3 linked regions of the Homo sapiens genome follow. The protein of the gene in region 1 interacts with the protein of each later gene in a pairwise test. Each region holds a gene or a part of one and is shown in the gene's direction. Other genes may lie near its edges.

Region 1 (7,640 bases):
TTGTTACAGCTATTTTGCCATATGTACTTCATATCTTATTTACTGGTAACAAGATTATTAGTATCCTGAATTTGTTCTTTTCCTTTCCTAGCCATGTTTTTATACTTTTATTACATATATATGTATCCATAAACAATATAGAATATTATTTTACATATTTGAAACTGTGCATTGATGTGATACGGTACCTTACTTTTTATGCAGAACTTGAGTTTTTTAACTTAGCATTATTTTTAATGTATAGCCCTGTTGATTCTTAATCCATTTTAATTGTTGTATAAATTCCATTGGATGAATATACCAGAATTTATCTGTCCATTTTCTTATTGGTAGACATTTAGGTTGTTTACATTCTTTTGCAGTTACAAACAATGCTGCTGTGAACTTCCTTTTTTCTTTTTGTTTTTGAGACAGCGTCTCACTCTGTCGCCCAGATTGGAGTGCAGTGGCGCGATCTTGGCTCACTGCAACCCCTGCCTCCCAGGCTGAAGCTATTCTCCTGCCTCAGCCTCCCCAGTAGCTGGGATTACAGGGATGCGCCACCACGCCCAGCTAATTTTTGGATTTTTAGTAGAGACGGGTTTTCACCGTGTTGGCCAGGCTGGTCTCGAACTCCTGACCTCAAATGATCCACCTGCCTTGGCCTCCCAAAGTGATGGGATTACAAGCGTGGCTGCTGCTGTGAACTTTCTTATGCATGTTTCCTTGTGTTCATGTGGGAAAGGTTTTGGGTGTACACATAGAACTGGACTTGCTGGAGCTGGGCATCTTCACTTTATAAGAAATTGTTTATTTCTCTACCAAGTAGTTGTAACAATTTGTACTCTCACTAGCAGTATCCTTCATTAAGTTTTCATCAAATATATTGATAGGTAGTAATGTATTCTGGTTTTACAGAAATCATTGATGCTTGCATAATTCTGGCACAGATTCCTCTTTTCATTTCTTCTCTTGTGCTTGATATTTTAGTAAGATAATCTTAGGGAGAGGTGTAAAGGAATACAGTTTGGATTTAACTAAATATGAGTTCCTTCTGCTATTGTTGTGTTCCCTGGAGTGCAATCTCACTTTTCCTTGCTGTTCTATTTAAACTTCAGATGGAGAGAGACCTTTATAAAGTTAATATGTTTATTATTTTCATTGGTTTCTGTGTTCATAGATTCTCAGAGGATTAAACAGCAAGCAACATTGTTTGTTGGAGAGTCCCACAGGAAGTGGAAAAAGCTTAGCCTTACTTTGTTCTGCTTTAGCATGGCAACAATCTCTTAGTGGTAAGTAGTTGCTTGATATCTTCAGGTTACTTACTGGGATCTGAGAAAATATAATACAGTATTCTTTATCCAGACTGGTTCAGCCATGCTGTCGCTAACTTAAATATTTGTTTAAAGATGTTTCTTTGAAATAAGTTATAAATCTTCCAAAAGAGTTTCAATATAGCAAAATATGTTTAATTAATGCTAAAATAGTATTGAACATAATTTAGTCTTTTGATGAGTCGGAAAGTACATAAAGACTTGGCAGCCTGGGCAGCATGGTGATACCCCATCTCTACAAAAATTGACAATCAATTAGCCAGGCATGGTGATGTACACTTGTAGTCCCAGCTACTTGGGAGACTGAGGTGGTAGGATCGCTTGAGCCCAGGAGGTCGAGGTTGCAGAGAGCTGTGATTGTGCACTCCAGCCTGGGTGAAAGAAAACAAACAAACAAAGTTTTGGATGCTTAGAGTTATTATAAAAATAATTAGATGATAATTTGTATGTAAAAGATGCAAGAGATGGGCTGTCATGATGCTGTAACACATACTAATTGCTTTTTTTGGGGGGGGAAATCCTTTAATATATTTGCTTACCTGTTCCTTTCTCATAACATCAGCACATGGAATATATAAAAAAGAATACATTCTAGTTGATCTTTCTACTTGTTTAAATGCCAGATAAACAGAAATTTAGTATAATATTGTTTGTATGAATTTATATTACTTCCCACTACTTTTCCTTTTTTTTTTTTTTTTTTTGAGTGGCGTCACCTGGGATGGAGCATAGTGATGTGATCATAGCTCACTGTAACCTCAAACTCCCAGGCTCAAGTGATTCTCCTGCTTCAGCCTCTTAAATAGTTGGGATTATAGGCATGAGCCACCAGGCCAAACTATTTTTACTTTGTTTGCTAACAAATGCCTATTAATATTTACTTCTATGAAAGACTATATAAACTACATAATGAATCAGAAATATAATATTGGATACATTTTAGTTACATTAGATGGCTTTAACCTAAAGTATTAGGAGAATTGAGGTTAAACATGGTATGTGTATGTATGTATGTATGTGTATATAGGTATATAGATACATTTTTAAAATGAAATGTTTGTTACTAATAAGAGTATATTAAGGCTGGGCACAGTGGCGCACGCCTGTAATCCCAGCACTTTGGGAGGCCAAGGCAGGTGGATCACCTGAGGTTGGAAGTTTGAGACCAGCCAGACCAACGTGGAGAAACCCCGTCTCTACTAAAAATACAAAATTAGCCTGGTGAGGTGGCGTGTGCCTGTAATCCCAGCTACTCGAGAGGCTGAGACAGGAGAATCACTTGAACCTGGGAGGTGGAGGTTGCAGTGAGCCGAGATCGCGCCATTGCACTTCAGCCTGGGCAACAGGAGCGAAACTCTGTCTCAAAAAAAAAAAAAAACAGTAAATACTTCATAAGCTTTTGGTTGTTCATTTTGATTCTCACTGACGTTAATTTTGGGAAAAATGAGTTTATCGGTACTAACTTCAGGTCTTAATGGCAGATGTCTGGAAAATAGAATTAGGAATATTTATATGGTACAAATGGGAAAACAATGTCAATACTGATTATTTTTAAAAATAAATTATTTAGCTTTTTTGGGGGTATATGAATTGTACATTTGTATACAATGTAGGCACACAATGTAAACTTATTACAATTTGGTATTATATTTAGCACTAAAATTACCTATTTTATTGATTTGAATATTGACCTTAAAATGTATTTTGATGCAAGTATCAGAATTAATACATCAAAAAACATGTTTCTATTTGAAATAGAAGTATAATTGGGGGAATGATTTAACCCTTATGTGTTAGATTATTATCTAATATATTGAACTTTCAAATTCTTCATTTAGGGAAAGAGTAGTAATTAAGGATATACTTTATGTCCTTGTTTCAATCCATTCTTGAATTTTAGATAAATCTTAATATAAATGAATACTTGAGTAGTTGTACTTTTATTACATTATTAATCTTAGATTATTAGATTTTTACAGATTACATAAATGGGTGATAATTTCCCTATAAATGTTTTTGTTTTGGTTTTTGAAACAGAGTCTTGCTCTGTCGCCTAGGCTGGAGTGCAGTGGCATGACCTCTGCTCATTGCTACCTCTGCCTCCCAGGTTCAAGCGATTCTCCTGCCTCAGCCTCCTGAGTAGGTGGTATTACAGGCGTGCACTACCACGCCTGGCTAATTTTTGTATTTTTAGTAGAGACAGGGTTTTACCATATTGGCCAGGCTGGTCTCAAACTCCTGACTTCAATTGATGTGCCTGCCTCGGCCTCCCAAAGTGCTAGGATAACAGGCGTGAGCCACTGTGTCCAACCAAATGTTTTTGGCTTATTTCTCTCCTGTCCTAATTTGATGCTGCAGATAAAGTGACCAGCTTGTCCAGGTTTGCCAGGTACCTTCCTGGTGTTAGCCCTAAAAATCTTTTATCTTAGGAAACCTCCCAATCCTGGGTGAACTGGGCTGTAGAGAATGATTGATGTTTATTTAATTAGATATATTATAAATAGATGTTCTTTCATTTTTAGGGAAACCAGCAGATGAGGGCGTAAGTGAAAAAGCTGAAGTACAATTGTCATGTTGTTGTGCATGCCATTCAAAGGATTTTACAAACAATGACATGAACCAAGGAACTTCACGTCATTTCAACTATCCAAGCACACCACCTTCTGAAAGAAATGGCACTTCATCAACTTGTCAAGGTAATTTATATTTTGCCTGGGTCAGTTGATATCTGTAATAAGAGTCTTAATTATTACTGTTATAAGCCCTAATTTATATAAGTTTGGTTAGCATAACTGATTATATATCTCTATCTAGTTTCTCTGGAATGATTTTAAAATAGCACAGAGTGGTCAAAAATCCATAGACGTTTTTAAATTCTTGGTTTGACTTTTAATTTATTGAGACATTTTGTTGTCCTAAATAATTTTTTAAGGAAGGCAAGGCAAAATAAATGATTTTCCAAAATTGATGTTATTTGTAGCCATTATTGTTAATTATATGTTAGAATTCTATAAAACAATGTTTGTATCCTAAGACGAAATCTAATTAGCCTCATTGATTCATTCTTGATAAGTTTGCCTGGCCTTCTGAGGCCAGTATCCTACATAAGTATCAGGTATGTTTATGTGTGATCTTTAAATAATTTTTACTAATTTTAGAGAAATACATTAAGAGTAACATAAGATTATTAATAATATATTTAAAAAATATTTCACCTGCTTTTGGCTGTATAGAAAGGATAGACTATTATTTACCTAAGAAACCTAGGGAACATCCTGGACACTTTGCTCTTTCTTATTTCTTCATGTACATCTCCATATCCATTGGTACCTCCATAGTCCAAACTACCATTTCTTGTTTAGAGCATCCAATAACGCTTTTTTCTGCTTTTACTCATGCTATTCCTTTACCAGTCACTGGCAGGGAGACAGAGGTTGCCATGATTGACTTAAGTCAAAACAAAGAGTATCCATTTCCTAAAATCAAGGATGGAGTCAGCTTCCTCTAAAGCATGTGACTATATAGAGGAGGGTAGATGATTGAACTTCTGGTAGGAATGAGGAAAGAGAAGTGGAACAGTTATTAAATAGGTGACCAATAGTGTTGTCTACATTGTTTTGATTTTGGCCTTTTGGATTTCTTCCCTTTCCTTCAAAGATTTATGCTTTCTCCTTCCTCAGAGCCTTTGCTTCTATTAGTGTCTCTTCTGAGCAAAGTTCCATCTTCAATTTATTATCCTTTTCTTCCTCAGTTTACATGTGACTTCCTTGGGGTATCCATCACTGATTTTTCTGTCAGAGTAGATTTGATTTTCCTATTATAGTCTGTCTTCTCCTTGTGTACCTTTCCTTTATAGCACTTGTTACAGTTTGTATTATATGTGTCTGTCTAAATCTTTTATTAATCTCTGCTTCCTTGGCAGACTACTTCATGAGGTTAGGAATATTGTCAATTTGCTTACCATTGTATCCCTAGAACTCTAGCAGGGTGCCTGGCATATGGTAGGTGCTAGATAAATATTTGTTGTTAGGAATGAATGGGATTAATTTTCAGCTAATTATAGGAATTCTGGTGTATAATATTTATATACAACCTTTTAAAAACAGCTTTATTGACGTTTACTTGACATAACAAATTGCATATATTTAAATGGTACTTTTTTTTTTTTTTTTTTTGAGACAGAATCTCACTCTGTTGCCCAGGCTGGAGTGCAGTGGTGTGACCTTGGCCCACTGCAACCTTCACCTCCTGGGTTCGAGCAATTATCCTGCCTCAGCCTCCCAAGTAATTGGGATGACAGGCGCCTGCCACCACACCCAGCTAATTTTTTGTATTTTTAGTAGGGACAGGATTTTACCATGTTGGCCAGGCTGGTCTCGAACTCCTGACCTCAAGTTACTCACCTGCCTCGGCCTCCCAGAGTCCTGGGATTATAGGCGTGAGCGACCACGCCCAGCCTAAATGGTACACTTTGATACATTTTGACATATGTACCTCCATGAAACTTTCACCAGAATCAAGACAGTGAACATACACACCAACCCCATATTCACTTTATCCAAAACTTTTTAAACATGCTCACTTTCCCAAAAAGTTTTCTCATGGACTTTTGTTATCCCTCTTTCCCACCCCTACATGACTCACCTCCCCAACCAACCACCTGTCTGATTTTTGTTACTATAGATTAGTTTGCATTTTCTATAGTTTATATAAATGGATTCATACAGGATGTATACTTATTTTGTCTGGCTTCTTTCACTTATGACAATTATTTTGAGATTCCTCTATGTTGTTGCATGTATTAATAGTTTGTTTCTTTTTATTTCTGAGTAATTGTGCATGGATATACCACAAATTGGTTATTGGCTGTTTATGTATATTTGGGTTATTGCTAGTTCTGGGCTATTACAAAGACAGATACTGTGAACATTTGTGTCTACATCTTTGTATGGATGTATGTTTTCATTTCTCTTGGGTGAATACTAGGAGCAGAATGACCAGATTGCTTTGTAGGTGTGTATGTTTTAACTTTTTTTTTTTTTTTTTTTTTTGAGACGGAGTCACTCTTGCCCAGGCTGGAGTGCAGTGGCGCAATCTCAGCTCACTGCAACCTCTGCCTCTCGGGTTCAAGTGATTCTCCTGCCTCAGCCTCCCAAGTAGCTAGGATTACAGGAATGTGCCACCACACCTGGCTAATTTTTGTATTTTTAGTAGAGATGGGGTTTCACCACGTTGGTCAGGCTGCTCTGTAGCTCCTGACGTCAAGTGATCCACCCATCTGTGCCTCACAAAGTGTTAGGATTACAGGCGTGAGCCACCGTGCCTGGCCAACTTTTTAAGAAATTTCTAAACTGTTTCATGAAGTGGTCATACCATTTTATATTCCCATCAGCAGTTATGAGAGTTCCAGTTTCTTCACATCCTTGTGAACCCTTGGTATGGTCAGTCCTTTTAATTTTAGCCATTCTTTTTTCCTGGAGATAGGGTTTCATTCTGTTGCCCAGGCTGGGTACAGTACTGTGATCTTGGCTCACTTGGCTCATTGCAACCCCTGCCTCCTGGAACCAAGTGATCCTCACACTTCACACTCCCTAGTAGTTGAGACTACTGGCATGCACCACCACACCTAGCTAATTTTTATAGTTTTTGTTGGTTTTACTGTGTTCCCCAGGCTTGTCTTGAACCCCTGGGCTCAAGTGATCTGCCTTCTTCGGCCTCCCAAAGCACTGGGATTATAGGCATGAGCCACCATACCTGGCCTTAATTTTAGCTACTCTAATAGGCATGTGGCAGTATCTCATTGTGGTTTTAATTTTTATTTCCCATATTTTCATGTTCTTATTAGCTATCCATGTATCTTGTTTGATGATATGTCTGTTCGAATAATTGCCTATTTTTTATTAGTTTGTGTTCTTACTGTTAAATTTTGAGACTTCTTTAAACATTTTGAATACAAGTCTTTGATCAGATAGAATTTTAGGTTTACATTTAGGTCTAAGATCCATTTTGAGTTAATATGTGTATATGGTGTAAGGTATGGATTCAAGTTCATTTTTTTGCATGTGGATATCCAGTTGTTCAGCACCTGGATATATCGAAAAGGCTATCCTTTATCCACTACATTGCCTTTGTGTCTTTATCAACAATGAGTTATCCATATGTACACAACTTGATTTTGACATTACTGTGAGTCAGTGTTATTTAGAATAGTCTAAATGGGAAAAATCAAGGTTGTATTCTGATACGCTCTTTATATTTGTAAGTAAATCCTTTAATCTGTAACCTAAATATAGAAAAATGCAAATCCTAAGTATATAACTTGATGAA
Region 2 (7,483 bases), on another chromosome or scaffold:
TGTCAATAGCAAGAAAGCAAAAAAGAAAATGTAAGCCAGGAAGAAAATTGATTTTATTCATGCCCTTTCAATAGGAAGAACGTCCCAGATCTGAACATCAGAGTGTCTCAGATATCTCAGGATGGTTTCCCCTTAGACGTTTTCCTTTTTCGGCCGGGCATGGTGGCTCACGCCTGTAATCCCAGCAATTTGGGAGGCCAAGGAGGGCGGATCACCTGAGGTCGGGAGTTCAAGACCAGCCTGACCAACATGGAGAAACCCCGTCTCTACTAAAAATAGAAAATTAGCTGGGCATGGTAGCACATGTCTGTAATCCCAGCTCCTTGGGAGGCTGAGGCAGGAGAATCGCTTGAACCCAGGAGGTGGAGGTTGTGGTGAGCTAAGATTTTGCCATTGCACTCCAGCTTGAGCAACAAGAGTGAAACTCTGTCTCAAAAAAAAAAAAAAAAAAGATGTTTTCTTTTTTTTTCAGGGACAAGGTCGCCCAGGCTAGAGTGCAGTGGTGCGATCTCCACTCACTGCAACCTCCACCTCCTGGGTTCAAGTGATTTTCATGCCTCAGCCTCCCGAGTAGCTAGGACTACAGGGATATGCCACTACATCCAGCCAATTTTTGTATTTTTAGTAGAGACAGATTTTTACCACGTTGGCCAGGCTGGTGTCGAGCTCCTGAGCTCAAGTGATCCTCCTGCCTTGGAAGGAGGTGCTAAGAATATAGGTGTGAGCTACTGCACCTAACCTCCCCTTAGATTTTTTTTTTCTTTTTTTGAGACAGAGTCTCCCTTTGTTGCCCATGATGGAGTATAGTGGTGGAATCTCGACTCACTGCGACCCCTGTCTCCCAGGTTCAAACGATTCTCCTGCCTTAGCCTCCCAAGTGGCTGGGATTACAGGCCCATGCCACCACACCCTGCTAATTTTTTTTTTTTTGTATTTTTAGTAGAGACGGGGTTTACACCATATTGACCAGGCTGTTCTTAAACTCCTGACCTCAAGTGATCTGCTCACCTCGGCCTCCCAAAGTGCTGGGATTACAGGTGTGAGCCACCAGACCCGGCCCCTTAGACTTTTATAGAAAGGATTTAGACAAGTCACAGGTGGTGGTGGTGGAGGTGGGATTTCTGAACTCATGTGCTGCTTTATAGGAACACAGGTAAAGTTAAACATTGTCAGTCACTGGGTGCTATGGCTCACCCCTGTAATACCAGTACTTTGGGAGGCCGAGGCAGGAGTAAGAGACCAGCCTGGGCAACATAGCAAGACTCTGTCTCTACTAAAAATAAAAATAAAAATAATTAGCCAGGCATGGTGGTGCGAGCCTGTAGTTCTATTTACTCAGGAGGCTGAAGCAGGATTAGTCCAAGCCTGGGAAGTCGAGACTACAGTGAGTTATGATCACACCACTGTACTCCATCCTTTCTAAAAAATGAATAAATAAAATAAATTAATTTTTAAAAATTCAGTGCCTACAGAAGCATAGGAAAAACAAAACAAAACATTGCCAGTGTTTTTGGGCAATTTCATTCTCTTTTGGAGCCCCCTTCACTTCACCCTCAAAATGAGAACGTGGGGCTTCCAGGTGAGGAGTTCTAATGCCCCAATTCCTTTCCAGCCTGTCGTAGGACACTCGGGAGCCCAGAAATGGCTCAGAAGCTCTGGGTCCTGGAGTAGGTAAGGAACTGGAGGGCGTATCAAGGGAGCAGGAAAAAAAAATTTGCAAAAGCAAAGGGGAGTAGCATTATTATTAAAGTCTCCTGAATATGGAAGTACAAATCGCAACCCTTCTAGAGATGCTTAAGTTCCCGGGGCATCTGCAACAAAACCAGAAAGCCCTAGATCCGTAGTGATATCTTTAGTTCCTCAAATTCCCTTGGTCAATAGCAGATCCTACTTCTGCATCAAGGAAATTGGGTGATAGTGACGCGCGAGTGGACTACAAATCCCGTAATGCATGTGGGCGGTATGAGGGCGGTGCCATGTTTAACGTATTTTAGAGACACGTGCTAGGAACTACAACTCCCAGAAAGGCACGTGCGGTACCCGGGTCCCCACTGTGCCAGCTGTTTATTTTTTATTTTTATTTTTATTTTTTACTTTTTTTTTTTTTTTGAGACGGAGTCTTGCTCTGTCTCCCAGGCTGGAGTGCAATGGCGTGATCTCAGTTCACTGCAACCTCCGCCTTCTGGGTTCAAATGATTCTCCTTCCTCAGCCTCCCTAGTAGCTGGAATTACAGGCACCCACCACCATGCCTGGCTAACTTTTTTGTATTTTTTGGTAGAGACTGGGTTTCACCATGTTGGCCAGGGTGGTCTCGAACTCCTGACCTCAAGTGATCCGCCCGCCTCGGCCTCCCAAGGTGCTGGGATTACAGGGATAAGCTGTCGCACCTGGCCTGCTTTTTTTTTTTTTTTTTTAATTTTTAATTTTTGTTGGTACATACTAGGTATACATATATTTACGAGATAATTGAGATGTTTTGATACAGGCAGGCAATGTGAAATAAGCACATCATCGGGAATAGGGTATCCATCCCCTTTCAAGGATTTACCCTTTGATGTATAAACAATCTAGTTACACCCTTTAATTTATTTAAAAATGTACAATTAAATTATTATTGACTATAGTCATTCTGTTGTGCTATCTAATAGTAGGTCTTATTCATCCTTTTCTTTTTGTACCAATTAACCATCCCCCACCTCTCCCCCATGTACACACCCCCACCCCCAATCTTCTTTTTTTTTCTAGTCCAAGGAACACCACCCCTTACTTGCCGACTTCCGAAGGTCACCGGGAGCGGGTTCTCAGCCTCTCCCAAGCCCTGGCTACTGAGGCGTCGCAGTGGCACAGAATGATGACAGGTGACTGGCTGGGGATGTTGGACTTCTGGGTTTTAGGGAGGAGAGAGCTGGAGACCTGGAATCCCAGGTCCTGGAGAGGAGGGGTCTGGGGGCCGGTGAGAATTTTTTATCTTGGTGAGTAAAGAGTTGGGCAGGGTTTGGGAGTTTTAGGTCTCAGGCAAGAGGTGACTGGGGTCCGGGACACTTGGGAGGAGGGGAGGAAGAGGTCAGGGGGCGGGGAGAGGGCCGACAACTGAGTCTCAAAGAGGACTGGACTGGCGTATCCAGACTCCTGGATCTGAGGGAGGAGGGGCTGGGGGCCTGGACTCCTGGGTCTGAGGGAGGAGGGGCTGGGGGCCTGGACTCCTGGGTCTGATGGAGGAGGGGCTGGGAATCCGGAGTCCTGGGTCTGAGGGAGGAGGGGCTGGGAATCCGGGGTCCTAGCGCTGAGGTTTGCCATTCTCATGTCCCACTCATCCTCTCCAGGTGGAAATTTGGACTCCCAGGGAGACCCTCTTCCCGGTGTGCCGCTGCCTCCTTCGGACCCCACGCGCCAGGAGACCCCTCCCCCCAGATCTCCCCCGGTGGCTAATTCGGGTTCCACGGGGTTCTCTCGCCGAGGGAGTGGGCGTGGAGGAGGTCCCACCCCCTGGGGGCCCGCGTGGGATGCCGGGATCGCCCCTCCGGTCCTGCCACAAGACGAGGGGGCATGGCCTCTGCGAGTCACTCTGCTACAATCCAGCTTCTAATCCGCCCAAAAGCGGCAGCCAATCGGAGCGCGAGGACGTGGTCTGGAGGTACCGCCGGAGATCTGGGACCACTCAGGGCATCAGGGGGCGTGGTCTGGTCCCCATTGCGGGCCCGGGAGGGGAATGGTTTCTATGGCCAAAGTTTGGTTTTCTCAACACTGTCTAAATTTGGATTAAAACTTTGAACTTTTAGTCAATAGCTTTCTTTCTGTCTGTCTGGGGTTGTGGCACTGGTGTCTCTGAGGGGCAGAGCTGGAGTCGTGGACTCCTGGGTCCTGAGAGAGGAAGGGACAGGGGGCTTGGACTTATAGGTCTCTGGGAAGAAGGGATAGAGAACCTGATCCCTCGGTCTGAGAGTGGAGGGGGCTGGGCCAGGATTCCCGGGTCTGAGGGAGGAAGGGGTGGGACCCTGACTCCTGGGTCTGAGGGAGGAGGGACTGGGAGGCTGGACTCCCGGGTCTGAGGGAGGAGGGGCTGGGACCCTGACTCCTGGGTCTGAGGGAGGAGGGGCTGGGAGGCTGGACTCCCGGGTCTGAGGGAGGAGGGGCTGGGAGGCTGGACTCCCGAGTCTGAGGGAGGAGGGGCTGGGGGCCTGGACTCCCGAGTCTGAGGGAGGAGGGACTGAGGCTTCTGGATTCCTGGGTCTGTGGGAGGAGGGACTGGGGCTCCTGGATTCCTGGGTCTGTGGGAAGAGAGGAGTGTCTGAGGGAGGAGGGGCTGGGGACAAACTTCCAGGTCTCTAGCCTTCCTGGCAACGCCCCCCGAGGCCGGACTTCCAGGATCCAGCCTCTATTGAGGATTTGATGCGACGGCCTCACGGGGCTTTGGAGGTGAAAGAGGCCCAGAGTAGAGAGAGAGAGAGACCGACGTACACGGGATGGCTACGGGAACGCGCTATGCCGGGAAGGTGGTGGTCGTGACCGGGGGCGGGCGCGGCATCGGAGCTGGGATCGTGCGCGCCTTCGGTGAGCCGGGTCTGACTGCTGGGAGCTGTGGAGTGTGAGAAAGGAAGGATGGGGGCGGGGTGATGGGGGCGGAAAATAGGGACTCCAGTACTGCAGCCAGGATTCTGATATTATAAAAGCCAATTTGCAGGCTAAAGTAAGCGTGTGGCGCTGTAGGCTAGGGCTGAGTCTGGCAGGGTCTCCGAAGGCAGTGGCCCCTTTCTCTGGGTCTGTTGGTGTAGCTACAAAACCAGTGGTTTGAGGAATGGCTCTGTCAGTCGTGGAGTTTGCTCCGGAAGCCACGAACGGGGGTTCAGGAGCCTCAGCAGAAACAAGGCAAGGAGAGTATGTGTCAAGGCGTCTGCCCTCTGTCCTATGGGTGATCATGAGACTGGGGTCACGAGGGGAGAGGGAGATCAGCCCCAATCCAGGTGGCCACAAGAGGGCGGCAGAGGCTTTAACCAAGGCTCGGAGAGTAACCTGTTCCCTTCCTATTCTCAGTGAACAGCGGGGCCCGAGTGGTTATCTGCGACAAGGATGGTGAGTGACGGTCCCTCAGCCCTCACCTTGGCCCTTCCTCCCTCAGACCCAGAGGTCCAGACCCCTAGCACCTCCTCCCTCAGACCCCGGAGTCCAGGCCCCCAGGCCCTACTTCCTCAGACCCAGGAGTCCAGACCTCAGCCCCTCCTCCCTCAGACCTAGGAGTCCAGGCCCCCAGCCCCTCTGCCCTCAGACCCAGGAGTCCAGGTCCCCAGCCCCTCCTCCCTCAGACCCAGAAGTCCAGGCTCCGGCACCTCCTCCCTCAGACCCAGGAATCCAAGTCCCCAACCCCTCCTCCTTCAGACCCAGGGGTCCAGGCTCCCAGCCCCTCTTCCCTCAGACCCAGGAGTCCAGGCTCTGGCACCTCCTCCCTCAGACCCAGGAGTCCAGGCCCCCAGGCCCTACTTTCTCAGACCCAGGAGTCCAGACCTCAGCCCCTCCTCCCTCAGACCCAGGAGTCCAGGCTCCCAGCCCCTCCTCCCTCAGACCCAGGAGTCCAGGCCCCCATCCCCTCCTCCCTCAGACCCAGGAGTCCAGGCCCCCAGCCCCTCCTCCCTCAGACCCAGGAGTCCAGGCTCCCAGCACCTCCTCCCTCAGACCCAGGAGTCCAGGCCCCCAGGCCCTACTTCCTCGGACCCAGGAGTCCAGACCTCAGCCCCTCCTCCCTCAGACCCAGGAGTCCAGGCCCCCAGCCCCTCCTCCCTCAGACCCAGGAGTCCAGGCTCCCAGCACCTCCTCCCTCAGACCCAGGAGTCCAGGCCCCCAGGCCCTACTTCCTCGGACCCAGGAGTCCAGACCTCAGCCCCTCCTCCCTCAGACCCAGGAGTCCAGGCCCCCAGCCCCTCCTCCCTCAGACCCAGGAGTCCAGGCTCCCAGCCCTTCCTCCCTCAGACCCAGGAGTCCAGGCCCCCAGGCCCTACTTCCTCGGACCCAGGAGTCCAGACCTCAGCCCCTCCTCCCTCAGACCCAGGAGTCCAGGCCCCCAGCCCCTCCTCCCTCAGACCCAGGAGTCCAGGCTCCCAGCCCCTCCTCCCTCAGACCCAGGAGTCCAGGCTCCCAGCCCCTCCTCCCTCAGACCCAGGAGTCCAGGCTCCCAGCCCTTCCTCCCTCAGACCCAGGAGTCCAGGCCCCCAGGCCCTACTTCCTCGGACCCAGGAGTCCAGGCTCCCAGCCCTTCCTCCCTCAGACCCAGGAGTCCAGGCCCCCAGGCCCTACTTCCTCGGACCCAGGAGTCCAGGCTCCCAGCCCTTCCTCCCTCAGACCCAGGAGTCCAGGCCCCCAGGCCCTACTTCCTCAGACCCAGGAGTCCAGACCTCAGCCCCTCCTCCCTCAGACCCAGGAGTCCAGGCCCCCAGCACCTCCTCCCTCAGACCCAGGAGTCCAAGTCCCCAACCCCTCCTCCCTGAGACCCAGGGGTCCAGGCTCCCAGCTCTTCTCTCCCTGCAGAGTCTGGGGGCCGGGCCCTGGAGCAGGAGCTCCCTGGAGCTGTCTTTATCCTCTGTGATGTGACTCAGGAAGATGATGTGAAGGTAAGCCGAGTTCCTGTTCCTACCCCCATCTCCGCTAATGACCAGTTCTTTGTTCTCCTCCAGCCATTTGCATATGCCTTTCCCTCTACTTTTCCTTCCTCTCCTGGCTCCGCTGGACTCGTCAAAGGTTTCCACCCAGTGTCACTCCACACACAAGGTCTTCTGTGACTGATGGGCAGGTCACATGTTCCTTCTGTCACACCTCTCCAAGGCTCTTAGCACATTTAACATGTGGATGGAAATGAATAAGTCCCTCAAAGTGGGTCAACTGGAACTGATTTTTCTGTCTCTTTTTTTTGTAAGTGTCACTGAGGCTGGAGTGCAGTGGTGTGATCTCGGCTCACTGCAACCTCAGCCTACCGAGTTCAAGCCATTCTCCTATCTCAGCCTCCCGAGTAGCTGGGATTACAGGTGTGCGCCACCATGCCCGGCTAATTTTTTTTTTTTTTAAGACAGAGTTTCGCTCCTGTTGCCCAGGCTGGAGTGCAATGGTGTGATCTCGGCTCACCGCAACCTCTGCCTCCCAGCTTCAAGTGATTCTCCTCTCTCAGCCTCCCGAGTAGCTGAGATTTCAGGCATGTGCCACCACACCTGGCTAATTTTGTATTTTTAGTAGAGACGGTGTTTCTCCATGTTGGTCAGGCTGGTCTCGAACTCCCAACCTCAGATGATCCGCCCGCCTCAGCCTCCCAAAGTGCTGGGATTACAAGCATGAGCCACCGTGTCTGGCTAATTTTTGTAGTTTTAGTAGAGACAGGGTTTCACCATGTTGGCCAGGCTGGTCTCGAACTCCTGACCTCAGGTGATCCGCCCACCTCAGCCTCCCAAAGTGTTGGGATTACAGGTGTGAGCCACTGCACGTGGCCTGTATGTAACTGATTTT
Region 3 (7,640 bases), on another chromosome or scaffold:
CTGAAAATACAAAAATTAGCCAGGCATGGTGGTGCATGCCTGTAATCCCAGCTACTCAGGAGGCTGAGGCTGGAGAATCGCTTGAGCCTGGGAGGCAGAGGCTGCCGTGAGCGGAGATCGCGCCCCTGCACTCCAGCCTGGGCAACAGAGCGAGACTCCGTCTCAAAAAAACAAAAAGAAAAGAAAGTTGGTACAAAGGAATAGTAACAGATAAAAGTTGAAAAGGTTTGGTAGGGTTGGATTGTGTATAACTTTGGATTCCAGGCAGAGAAATTTGAATGACCTGTTATCTGTACTAAGAGTTGTTGTAGATCCTTGAGCCAGGGAGCCATAAAATGAAAACAAATTTGACAAGGATTAAGTTAATATTGTCAATCTTAGATCACAGCCCTAGTTAGGGTTGTTGAAGGATAACAGAGTGTTGAAGCGTTTATAGAATAAGATGTGCTTTCTAATCTTTCAGCCTAAATCAAGCTTTGTTAGCGCTAAAGGGACCAGCTAGCTTCCTGTTCAGTCACTCAGAGTAGCAGCCTGCAAATTTAAATGCAGAAGGAGCACCCTTTGATCACAAAAGCAGCTGCTGCCACCTTTGTTTTGTACCTGGGTTCCTGGTGAAAGTGTCAGCTGTAAAGAAGCTGCAGGCGATGGGAGGGAAATAACCTGGCAGCCTAAGGGTTAAAGGCCTCTTGGGCAAGCCTTCAAAGCCTGCCACTACCTGGCCCCAGCCTTTTTTTCTCACTGCTCCCTGGACGTTTAATTCCAGGCAGCCACCTTTATTCGTAGTTCCCTGAGTGCTTTCCTTCCCAATTCCCTTCACTAGCTCTGTGTAATCGAAGTTAGACCTGAGAGTCAAGGCCCAGCTTGAGTTCCCTACCCCTCCCCAAGGGTTTCCTGATTAACCCAGCCAGACAGCATCTCATACGTCAGAATCTTTGTAGTACGCACTTATTTCTCAACCACTCATGTATTTAGTGGACTAGTTTAGTAGCTGTTGCTGTATACATCTCCACATCCTACCCTCCCAGTTGTACCACCAGAATCTCCTGAAATTGGCATCAGTAGGTACACAATAAAAACTGCTTGAGTGAATGCAATGAGAAATGTTGAAGGAAGAATCTGTGGAATTTGAGTTCTAACTAGTTATTATAGGGCTTGAAGGAGATAGAGGACTCTAAGAAGACCCCAAGGTTTTGAACCAGAGGATGAGGAAAAGAAATACTTTGTCCAAAATTAGGACGAGAGCTGATTTTCAGAGAATGTGATTTTTGAACACGTTGAATTTGCAGGTGATGGATATAATTTTTTTCCTTTTAGTTATTTGGATTTTCCTTCATTTCAGTCTTTATTGTATTGTGTTTTTCCATGTTTGTGATTCCCTAAGAATACCTCTATTCCTTAAGTCAAAGTATTAAAGAACAGTAAAATACAGTTTAGTGAAATATCTGAGGCATTATCAGCAGAAAGGGCATTTTGAGAGCTTGATTGGAACTTAGTCCTGATTGGGATTTTTCTCTCTCCTGCTCCTTCTCATCCTCCCACCCTACCCGCTTCCCCTCACTTCCCTTTGGCTGCTAGTCCAGATTCTCAAGAGGCTTCAACTCCATCAGACAGAGATCTGTTTGTGCATTCTGTGTCAATGATCACATGAATACTCCTTTGACTTCTCAGTGCCCCCACACAAACTGGTGCCTTGCTAAGGAAAGTGTGGGTAGTTAGGAGGTGCTAGTAGGTCCATTTTTAAGAGCAAATCTTGAACGTGTTGGAAAATCTTAGACCCTCCTATAAAGGGAAATGAACTTACACTGATTTTTTCCTTGATACCAGCGAAAATACCGTTAGGAAAATTAACTCTCTGTTAGCTTTCTTCATCCCAGGAGTCCAAGTGCATAATTAATAGTATTTCCAGGTATTACGGGTGTGTTGTTGTTGTTGTTTGTTTGTTTGCTTTTGAGATGGAGTTTTGCTCTGTTGCCCAGGCTGGAGTGCAATGGTGCGATCTCTGCTGACCGTAACCTCTGCCCCCCAGGTTCAAGTGATTCTCCTGCCTCAGCCTCCCGAGTAGCTGGGATCACAAGCATGCATCACCACACACGGCTAATTTTGTATTTTTAGTAGAGATGGGGTTTCTCCATGTTGGTCAGGCAAGTCTCTAAACTTCCGACCTCAGGTGATCTGCCTGCCTTGGCCTCCCAAAGTGCTGAGATTACAGGTGTGAACCACCATGCCAACCCTGGTTATTTTTAATTTTGGATAATTTGCACCATTAAAAGAATTAATCACTTAAAGTTAGTGGCCCATGGTCCATAAACCCAGGAATTTTACTTCTTTCTCATGCCAACCCAATCTCTGTTTATATCACTGTGGTAACACAGAACTTGTTACACTGTGATTGTTTTATTTATTTATTTTAGAAGCAGGGTCCACTCTGTTGCCCCAGCTGGAGTGCAGTGTGACCTCGAAGAACTTCTGGGCTCAAGTGATCCTCTGGCCTCAGCCTCCAGAGTAGCTGAGACTACAGGCCCGTGCCACCACACCTGGCTAATTTTTTTGTAGCGAACAGGGCCTTGTTTTGTTGCCCAAGGTGGTCTCCAACTCCTGACCTCTAGCGATCCTCTAGCCTCAGCCTACTGTGATTGTTTTAAATGTCTTTCTGGGCTAGGCATGGTGGTTCATGCCTGTAATCCCAGCACTTTGGGAGGCTGAGGTGGGAGGATTGCTTGGGCCCAAGAATTCGAAACCAGCCTGTACAGTATAGTGAGACCTTGTCTCTACAAAAATCTTTAAAAATCAGCCCAGCATGGTGGTGTGCCTGTAGTCGCAGCCACTTGGGAGGCTGAGGTAGGAGAATCACTTGAACCCTGGAGGGAGAGGTTACATTGAGCCAAAGATGGCACCACTGCACTCCAGCCTGGGTGACAGAGCAAGACTCTGTCTCAAAAATGAATAAATGAATGAATGTTTGTCTTTCTGCTCCAACAGACTATGGACTTCCCCAAAACTCCCTGCCCATATTTCTATCTTAAGCCCTAACATGGTACCCTATTTATAATATTCAGTAAATGTTGAATGAAAACGAACATATGGCTTTTTTTTTTTTTTTTTTGGGAGATGAAGTCTTGCTCTGTTGCCCAGGCTGGTGTGCAGTGGCGCGATCTTGGCTCACTGCAACTTTAGCCTCCTGGGTTCAAATGACTCTTCTGCCTCAGCCTCCGAAACAGCTAGGATTACAGGCCCATGCCATCATGGACAGCTAATTTTTCTATTTTTTTTTTTTTTTAGTAGAAACAGGGTTTCATCATGTTGGCCAGGCTGGTCTCAAACTCCTAACCTCAAGTAATCCACCTGCCTCGGCCTCCCAAAGTGCAAGGATTACAGGTGTGAGCCACCATGCCTGGCCACCATCTTCCTTACTTTTTTTTACGGTCTTGTAATAGCTTTATTATCTCATTTTTCTCTAATTTTTTCTTTCTTTTCTTTTCTTTTTTTTTTGAGACAGAGTCTCACTCAGTCGCCCAGGTGGGAGTGCAGTGGCTCCGTCTCCACTCACTGCAAGCTCTGCCTCCTGGGATCACACCATTCTCCTACCTCAGCCTCCCAAGTAGCTGGGACTACAGGCGCCCGCCACCACGCCCAGCTAATATTTTTGTATTTTTTTTTAGTAGAGACAGGGTTTCACTGTGTTAACCAGGATGGTCTCAATCTCCTGACCTCGTGATCCGCCCGCCTCGGCCTCCCAAAGTGCTGGGATTACAGGCGTGAACCACCGCGCCCGGCCTCATTTTTCTCTAATTTTTTCTACTTTTATACTTTTTTTTTTTTTTTTTTTTAGATTGAGTTTCACTCTGTAGCCCAGGCTGGAGTGCAATGGCATGATCTCAGCTCATTGCAAACTCTGCCTCCCAGGTTCAGGTGATTCTCCTGCCTCAGCCTTCGGAGTAGCTAGGATTACAGGCATGCGCTACCACACCCGGCTAGTTTTTGTGTTAGTAGAGACAGGTTTTTGCCACGTTGGCCAGACTGGTCTCAAACTCCTGACCTGAGGTGATCCACCCACCTCGGCCTCCCAGAGTACTAGGATTACTGGCATGAGCCACCGTGCCCGGCCTTATAGTCACTTTTATGTTTGTGCTGCATTAATTCAAGAATTTTGTGAAAGCTATATGAAGACTAAAGGGCTTTGCCAGGAGAGTTCACCCACATACTGGGATTCAAGGAACCACATGCAAATGGCTATTTATTTGTAATTATAAAGCAGCCATTTTCATATTAATGTATGCAGAATGCCAAAGAAGCATTTTTCTTTTTTTTTCTTTGAGACGGAGTCTCGCTCTATCGCCCAGGCGTGATTTCGGCTCACTGCAACCTCTGCCTCCCAGGTTCAAGCAATTCTTCTGCCTCAGTCTCCTGAGTAGCTGGGACTACAGGCGCATGCCACTACACCCAGCTAATTTTTTAATTTTTGGTAGAGATGGGGTTTCACCATATTGGCCAGACTGGTCTCGATCTCCTGACCTCATGATCCACCCACCTCGTCCTCCCAGAGTGCTGGGATTATAGGCGTGAGCCACCACGCCCGGCCTTTACCTCAATTTTTTTAAAAAAATGAAAAAATAGAAGGTACTGAATGGGCCCTATTTGGCACTTCTTGTCTTAGAGCCTTCGTTCCAAATATAGACCCTAGCCTGACATCCACAGAGGGTTTTGATGGTATTGCTGAAGAAAAATGATTCAGTTCATTGATATCCTTTGCTATTAACAGTTGTTAGTCCCCTATGGCTTCATCTGTACAATTATTAACTCCTTCTGTGCCCATTATTGAAATTAGTTTTTAGATGGGTTGTTTCAGCAGAGTTTTCTGTACTATAGCCAGGCTGTTCCAAGAAAGTACCCTTTTCTACCTTCCCAAATGTTGCAATGCCCTTTTGTGGTTCGTAACCCAGAAATAGGTGTTTCAGTTCATGTAAGTGTTGCCATTAAGGAATTGGGTATAGAACCCAACTTGGTTTGTTTGGCCTGTTAGTCTGGCTGCTACCCCTTCCCCCACCCTTACAGTCTGCTCATTTTTTCCCTTGGCTCTTTCTCAGGAGCTGGGGCAGCAGCTGGGCCTTCCACATCCTGGCACAAGTGGGCTAAGAGTGCCTGATGTCTAAATTGGTGCCAGTCACGAGCTATAAGTCCTAACTAGAGCTCTCATTTTCCTCAGTCTCATTGGACGACTTCTTACTGTGGTGCTAGAGTGAGCCTCTGCCCAGGTCAGCTCATAACTGTTGCTGTGAGACCACAGACTTTAGGAGAACTGGAAGTTTAGGATTTCTTCAGACCTCTCTTTCACTTTTTCCAGCATTGGCACAAGCTGACTAGTTAAGGTTCTGCATTTAGAGGTAGGTGGATTAGGAACCCAGAACAGGCTGCTGGAAGTAATTCTCTGGTTGTCACACCTTATTTAGCTATAAGTGTTCAATGTGAACCAAAGCCTTATGAAGATTGTTAGCCTTTTACCCTGTTTCTCCCTTGAAAATACATTCTAAGATGCTTCTCTTCAATATATGTGAGTTACTATTGTGCTGCTAAAATTGCATTTAAAGGCCAGGTGCAGTGGCTCACATCTGTAGTCCCAGCACTTTGAGAGGTCAAGGTGGGTGGATCACTTGAGCCCAGGAATTTGAGACCAGCCTGGGCAACATGGCAAAACCCTGTCCCTACAAAAAAATACAAAAATTAGGCGGGCATGGTGGTGCATGCCTGTAGTCCCAGCTACTCGGGAGGCTGAGGTGAGAGGATCACTTGAGCCTGGGAAGTCGAGGCTGCAGTGAGCCATGATTGTACTACTGCACAGAGCTAGACCCTGCCTCAAAAAAAAAATCCAAATAATATAGGTAGATACTCCTCCCTCCAGGAGGTGGAGTTTAATCTTCCCCTCCCCACTGAATGTGAGCTGGACTTAATGAATACCTTACAAATAAAAGAGTACCAGAAAGAGAAAAGTAGTAACTATAGTGCAGAGACCTGGCAGACATACCTTAACCAAGTGATAAACATTAACATTGCCAGTGATGGAGAAGCCATGTTACTATCTTATATCCCTGATATGATATGTTGAGAAGGGTACTTCACCTCTGTGATATTCTTTTTTAAAACCCATAACCCCAGTCTAAACATGAGGGAAACATCAAACAAATGCAAATTGGGGAACCTTCTATAAAGTACTTCTTTAAAACTATCAAGGTCATGAAAAACAAGGAAAGACTAAGAAACTTTCACAGACCAGGAGAGACTAAGAATTCAAGATGACTAACTGCAATTTGGTATTCTTAATTGGATCCTGGAACAGAAATTTGGCATTAGTGGAGAAACTATTGAAATCTGAATAAAGCCTAGAGTTTAGTTAATAGTGTGTATCAGTGCTAACCTAATCTCTTAGTTTTGACACTCGTACATAGTTTCACAGATGTGTGCCATGTAAGACGTTAACATTAAGAGAAACCGAGTGATGGCTATACGGGAACTCCGCACTGTCATTGCAACTTTGCTATAAATGTAAAATTATTCCAAAATGAAATATTTCTTTTAAAACAATAGTCTACCTCTCAACCCTTAACTATGCATTTTCCCTCCCTGAAGGCAACAAATGTTATTAGTTCCTTTTATATCTTCCAGAGATGTAAATAAATGCAAATAAAAACAATCCCCCCTCCCTTTAAAAACAATGCTACGCACATATTATATACACTGTTTATACACACTGTTATTTTAGATCTTGACTCATTATCAGTATATATGTAGCTTCAGTCTTTCTTCATTTGTCTTTTTAAAAGTAGCTACAGGCCCGGTGTGTTGGCTCATGTCTGTAATCTCAGCACTTTGGGAGGCCAAGGCAGGCGGATCACTTGAGCTCAGGAGTTCGAGACCAGCCATAGGCAACATGGCAAAAGCCCCATCTCTACTAAAAATACAATCCAGCCTGGGCAACAGAGCAGGATGCTGTCTCAAAAAATAAAAATAAAAAAGATTAAAAAATAAATAAAAGTAGCTACAGAGAATTCCATTGTATGGATGTACTATAATTCATTTAACTGGTTTCTTATTGATGGGCATGTGTTGTTTGCAGTCATTTACTGTTACGAATAATGCTGTATTGAATAACGTTATACATGCATTATTTTGCACTTTCACAGTACAGTTAGCCCTCCATATCTGTGTGTTCTGCATCCTTGATTCAAGCAACTGCAGGTCAAAAGTATTTGGGGGAAAAAATAGCAACTGTACCAAACATGTATAGACTTTTTTCCTGTCATTATTCACTAAACAATACAATGTAACAACTATTTGCGTAGCACTTAGATTGTATTAAGTATTATGAGTAATCTAGAGATGATTTAAAGTATACAGGAGAGTGTCCATAGTTTGTATGCAAATACTCTTACCATTTTATATAAGGGTCTTGAGCATCCACAGATTTTAGTATCCTCAGGAGGTCCTGGAGCCAGTCTCTCATGTATATACCAAAAGATGACTAGATAGCTAGAGGATAAACTTCTAGCTTTCCTGGGTTAAAGCCTATATGTACCTGGAATTCTAAAGATGTTATATTGCCCTCAATATAGGGTTGCACCAGTTTATAATCCTACCTACAATGTTTA

Evidence for each region.
Region 2: the proteins of BRIP1 (region 1) and HSD17B14 interact in binary tests that used the Homo sapiens proteins (3 or more experiments, as listed by UniProt).
Region 3: the proteins of BRIP1 (region 1) and MMS19 interact in binary tests that used the Homo sapiens proteins (3 or more experiments, as listed by UniProt).

What each region holds. Positions count from the first base shown.
Region 1 is NC_000017.11:61,853,427-61,861,066, reverse strand, and holds part of BRIP1 (Fanconi anemia group J protein), read left to right. Parts: intron 1-1,159; coding exon 1,160-1,271; intron 1,272-3,835; coding exon 3,836-4,009; intron 4,010-7,640. UniProt on the Homo sapiens protein: DNA-dependent ATPase and 5'-3' DNA helicase required for the maintenance of chromosomal stability. Acts late in the Fanconi anemia pathway, after FANCD2 ubiquitination.
Region 2 is NC_000019.10:48,833,393-48,840,875, reverse strand, and holds the start of HSD17B14 (L-fucose dehydrogenase), read left to right. Parts: upstream 1-4,384; 5' UTR 4,385-4,464; coding exon 4,465-4,552; intron 4,553-5,032; coding exon 5,033-5,071; intron 5,072-6,517; coding exon 6,518-6,600; intron 6,601-7,483. Other genes in the region: PLEKHA4 (pleckstrin homology domain-containing family A member 4), read left to right, coding at 1,613-1,671, 2,747-2,859, 3,325-3,587. UniProt on the Homo sapiens protein: Catalyzes the NAD(+)-dependent oxidation of L-fucose, yielding L-fucono-1,5-lactone, which rapidly converts spontaneously to L-fucone-1,4-lactone. Can also act on D-arabinose and L-galactose, with lower catalytic efficiency. Does not use NADPH.
Region 3 is NC_000010.11:97,488,324-97,495,963, reverse strand, and holds part of MMS19 (MMS19 nucleotide excision repair protein homolog), read left to right. Parts: intron 1-7,640. UniProt on the Homo sapiens protein: Key component of the cytosolic iron-sulfur protein assembly (CIA) complex, a multiprotein complex that mediates the incorporation of iron-sulfur cluster into apoproteins specifically involved in DNA metabolism and genomic integrity.